Regions from separate parts of the Homo sapiens genome. Here region 2 is linked to region 1. The links come from fine-mapping of genetic effects on gene expression. Tissue or cell type: tibial nerve. Region 1 holds a variant in brackets; the other region holds the start of a gene. All regions are shown on one strand. Distances are from middle to middle.

Region 1 (2,768 bases):
CACAGAGTTTGTCCACTAGGGCAATTACTAGTAGAACTTTGGGGAGTGGGTTTTCTTCAAAACCCTAACTGTAGATCCAGCAGTGTGAGATGCCACCTGTAGAGGGCTGCATAAAAGAGACTCTAACCTCTGATAGCTACTTCCTGGGATGCATCCAGCAAAATCATGGGGGCCCAACCCTCACCCCAATATGTAGAGAAGGTTTGACTTGGAGCCAAAGACGATTATTCTCAAACCTCAAGATTTAATGTTATTTGCTTTGGTGGGAATTGGGCTTATTACAGACTTATTACAGACTTATTATTTATTTTTATTTTCCATTTCTCTCTTTTGGAATGAGGCTGTCCATCCTGTGCCTGTCCCATCACTATATTGTGGAAGTACATAACTTACTTGATTTCACAGCTGGAGAAACATGTGCCTCAGAATGAATCATACTTGACTTTCACACGTATCTGATTTTGATTATATTTAGATGATAATCTGGACCTTAGACTTTTAAGAGGATACTATAATGAGCTAAGACTTTTGGGGCTTTTGGGATGAAATGAAACATTTTGTACCTGAGAAATACATGATTTTTAGGCAGCTAGAATGCTGCAGTTTGAATGTTTGTCTTCTCCAAAGTTCATGTTGAAATTTAATTGCCATTGGAACAATGTTAAGAGGTGGGACTTTTATGTGGTGACCAGGCCATGAGGATTCTAAAGAACAATTCCTCCTTTCAGGAGCACACACACGCGTGCACACACACACACACACACACACACGGGTTTGTGGTGCTAGTGTGTGTGTAAAAGACAAATTAAATTGCAGGTTAAGAATTGGGTGATGTCTTACATTTATTCACTTTTTAAGCTCTTCTTGTGGAGCCTCTGTCCTTGACCATAATCAATGGGTGGTTATGTGTTGAAATCATTCAGAATCCAGATAGCTGGATGAGTTGCATGTGGAAATAAGTAGAGGAAAATCAGTATTTTGGGAACTCAGGGAATGGCCCTGGAGCTAAACTGCATGTCTGAATCTAGTGCCAACACATAGTAGCTGTTTGGTTTTTTAAAATTTTATTTTCGGTTCAGGGGTACATGTGCACGTTTGTTATACAGGCAAATTGTGTGTTGCAGGAGTTTGATGTATGGATTGTTTCATCACCCAGGTAATATGCATAGTATCTGATAGGTAGATTTTCAATCCTTACTTTCCTTCCACCTTCTATCTTCAAGTAGGCCCT[G/A]TGTCTGTTGTTCCTTTCTTTGTGTCCATATGTACTTGATGTTTGGCTCACACTTTTAAGTGAGATCATGCAATATTTGGTTTTCTATTCCTGTGTTAGCAGCTGTTTTAATCTTGCAGGAGTTACCTAGCCTTTCTCTTGCCTTCATTTTTTTTATGTGTCAAATATGGTTCGTAGCAGCACCTACATTATTAGGTTTTCATGGGGATTAAATGGTTTCTAATTAGGCAAGCATTTAGAATTGTGCCTGGCATAGACAGCATGTGACAAAAATTAATGTTTAAAAATCAGAGGTTTCTTGTGAAGCAGAATAGGCTAACTTATAAGTAGGTTTCCTTACACCTGCAGAACACAGCAGACCATGGAATGTCCTTGCTGCATTTGTTATTTGTTCAGCTCCTTTCTTTTCCAGTCTAAAGTTTGCAGACAGGCTATTATTTACATGCCTGCCAAGGATTTAAACAAGTGGGAGATTATCTCTCTCTCATATGTCTAAAATCTCAATTCCAAAGGTGGAAAGCAGAGAATACCTCTTGGAAAATGGCAAACAGCACCTAGAATCAGCCATAGCCTTGGAATTTTCTTGGCGTTATTGGAGGCTTATCAGAAAGTTTCCCCACTTAAGGACATATTAACACTAGATTTCCAGGAGACTGCTTTCCATATACAAGAAGACTGCTGGAGGGAATATGATGGGAAAGACCTGAAATGAGCTTCTTGGAATCTTGTAAAACTATGTCACAGGAAGGGCCTTGTTTTCTGGAGGACAATGAGATAAACCTTGAACAGATAGGAAATACAGTTTATATGCAAAAGGCATCACTTTGGAACAAAGTAGCTGCCAGGTAAAGGTATCAGTTTTATTAGCTTGCACGCGGAATTTGGCCAGTCACATGTGCAAGCAATAAAGTTAATAACATCTCAATGTGTTTCCAGATACTGGTAGCAATAAAGATTTTTATGGGAATACTGTGTCAATTGTTGATACAGTATTGAACTGAATCTCTCTCTGTTTTATATCATGCCAGTTACAGTGTATTTCATTATGTATTTTAAAGTATTAGATCTTTTATATCTGGAATGTTTTTGCTTGCTTTAAGTCTTCTTGAAGTAAATAAGAACTCTCATATTTAAAAAAATTATGCCACAAAGAATTTTTTTAATTTTAAACTATTAATTACTTGTTCATTTTTTTTGCAAGATACACTTATTATGGTACCAAGTATACTGGACTCCTACCTACTGTATCTTTTATGAAGTCTGAAGAATATGATTGACTTTCTTATTTATAAGAAAAAAGATATCTTAACCTGGCTATAAGCTTGTAAGATAGCATAAATATTTTTACTAAATGCAGAAATAAGTTGGATTAACATAACAAACACCTATGAACCTGCCAAGTAGAATAAATAATGTCAACGTTTGTCATCTTTGTTTAATATTATTAGTTTTATTTAAAAAGTTATAAATTCTCCAGGCAAATACTGTGATAGATTTTTCTTTTTATTCTGTGTATATGCAACAATGTAGCAAAAAT
Region 2 (2,768 bases), 410 kb before region 1:
AACATTCTGAGGCATGGCTGTCCCGCCATGTAAAAATAAACTTTACAGCAGCAATGCTAACAGAAAGAATTGTCAAATTGCCAATAACATGTATAATGTAAGGGGTTAGAATGCAAGCTGAAGAGAGCAAGGTAAATTATAGCATTCTGTGAAAATAAGTGATGTAAAACCAACAGCAATTTTAAATTATTAACAATGGTTCCGAAGCTAATTCAACTTTTCCATTGGTGTAAGCCACAAACAGAATCACACAGCATGTTTCTCTTTAAACATCTTCAGGGGTCCTACGAGGTGGGTGAAAATGGGTAAGGGTGTCTGTTAAAGGCTCTAATGCAGCTAATGCCATCTAAATGGTATATTTACAAGCCTGTGGAGTATAACCTCATTTCTCCAAAACTGTCTAACCATTATCCTACTTGAGAAGTTAACCCATGATGAACAAAAGTACCTCTCTTCCACCCTTCTGCTCCCTATTTTCCCAAACCTTTCTATCTTGGTATTTTGTATGCTGAGCAAAACATTCCATAAATAATGCTGTGGTGCACAGGCATTAAAGTTTAGAGAGTTTCTGCCTTTGAAGTAGGTAGTGACAGGACCAAGGACACACGGGTTCAATTCCAAGCCAAATATGAGGCGGGTGGTTTGAAAATGTCAAACCAAAGAGGCCTAGGGGAAAAGAACACAAGCTTCCACTGCCACCTCCCTTCCTCTCCCCTCCCCTTTTTCTCTCTTGTTCCTTTCCTCTCTTCTCCTTTTTCGTTGTGGTTTCTCACGGAGACAATCAAAGCAGGGAAGGCTGGATTTTAAATTGGTGAGACACACACTGGAAATATGTAATTCCCAGAAGAAAAAAAGAAACTGCTGAAGAGGGGTATGGGGGCTGTTGGCAGCATGTCCAAGTGACAACCCTCCCCACCCCCACCCTAATATAGCACAAATCCACAGATTCTTCTTCGATCCTCTTCTCCCTCCAGTTCCCAGTACTCTACCCAACTTGACCCTTCATCCTAAAAATTTAGGAATCTGCAGGGCACCCGCTGTTTAAGAGTGTGTCTCTCAGTATATGCACCCAATTTTCTGGAACCCCTGAATCCGGACAGTTGTAGCAGGCAAGGGATGCTCCCACCCTCCCACCGGGGAAGAGGTAAGAAAGGGGGGAAGAAGAGATGGAGACAAGAGGAAAGGGATGCAGAGCTGTGCTCTAGGGCGAGTGGCTGCAAGGAAGACGGGGAAGAAAGAAAGGGTGGGAAGGAAGTGGGGCTGGGAGAGAGGAAGAAAGGGATGAAAGAAAGGCTGGAAGGGAGAAAGGAGGGGAGAGGAGAGAGGGATGTTGGGAAGGATGAGGGAGGGAGGGTTGGGGAGCGGGGAGGGGGGAGGATGGAGAGGATGGGAGGGAGGTGGGGAGGGAGGGAGGCAGGCAGGGATGGAGGATGCTCTGCCCGGGACTCACCTCTGTGGGTCGGTGGGAGTTTCTCGCCTCCTCCTCTTTCTCGCCCGTTCCCAGCAGCTGGAGTGGTAATCACAGAAGGGACTGGAGAGGCGGCGGCAGGGACAAGGGCAGCAGCTGCTGCAGCCGCCTCTGGCCGAGGTGCGGTGCCGCCTGCTCTGCCCGCCCGCCTGGGTCTCCGCCTCACTCGGGGCTGGAAGCGAAGCCGCTCCCCCCTCCCCCCGCCCGCCCCGCGTCCTGCCCAAGCGCGAGCGGCAGCGGCCCGGATCGCCGCTAGGGGAGGCAGCCAGTGCGCATGCGCGGCCGCTTGCTCGCTCGCGCGCCCCCGCGGTCCCCGTGGCTCCGCGGCGCCTGGAAAGGCACCGGGCATCGAGGGGTGGCTGGGTGGGGGGCCGCGGGCGCGCGCGGCCTGGGGAGCGCCCGAAAGGGCGGGGCGGGGTAGGGCGGAGCTCTGGAGGCGCGGCAGGCTCGGCGCCGCAGGTGGGGGGAGGGGACGGCGGCGAAGGGGCACCGCCGTAGGGCGCAGGTGCCGTGTCCATGACAACCGCGTTACCCTGCGGGCGGGGACCCGGAGCTGAATCGCCGGAGTCGCGAGGCCCGGGGAGAGGGACCGGGTGCGGGAGCGGGCAGGATAGGGGCGGGGGGGATAGGGGTGTCGCAGAGTAGGAAAGGAGGGCCAGCCCAGCAGGGGTCCGACACGTGGCAGGAGGAGGGCAGGGCCAGAGTGCTGCAAAGGTAGTGACTGCCGCGGAAGGGAGGTTTGTTGGGATGTGGAGTCCCGAGGGGAGAGGAAGGGAGATTTGGACTTTAAAAGAACCTAGAAGAGGATGGAATTGTTAAAACAACTGGAATATTTGCTCATTTAACAAGCCTTTGTTGAATATTTTCTCCGTGGAAGGCATTGTGATTCTTTTCTTGATTCAGTGGATATTACTTGGCTCCTAGTTTGTACCAGACACTGTACTTAGGCATTTTGAGATATCCAAAAATGTTCGTCCTCTGAGAGGTTATACTGTAGTTGGGGAACTTACATAGCTAGGGCAGGGAGTGTTTGCGCCGCCAGCCATCGGCAGCTGGGACTCGATGTTGCTGGAATGTAACTGTTACAGAGGTGCTAACAGTGAAAAAGGTACACAGCTACATCAGATGAGAAATATAAGTTACAGTCATCTTTGTTCTGCCACAGTGCCAAATGACAATTTTGTTTTGTTTTAAATCAAGAGAGAGAAACAAAAAGAAAATCTGTGGAAGTTTAGTATGACACAACCGACGCTAAGTTCACAACATGCTACCTGTTTGGTATCCTAGTCCACTAGCATCA

What was found. PIP is the estimated chance that this variant, and not a neighbour inherited with it, causes the effect.
Region 2: it holds the start of CTNNA2, and the variant in region 1 is fine-mapped to the expression of CTNNA2 in tibial nerve (GTEx, PIP above 0.99).

What each region holds. Positions count from the first base shown.
Region 1 is chr2:79,102,760-79,105,527 of GRCh38, reverse strand. No RefSeq gene overlaps it. Among named protein-coding and RNA genes, the nearest start is that of REG1B, 16 kb to the right of the region's middle. The variant G/A (reference allele first, on the strand shown) is at 1,232.
Region 2 is chr2:79,511,890-79,514,657 of GRCh38, reverse strand. CTNNA2 (catenin alpha 2) reads right to left here and starts at 1,607. Exons shown (of 19, transcript NM_001282597.3): 1 at 1,451-1,607.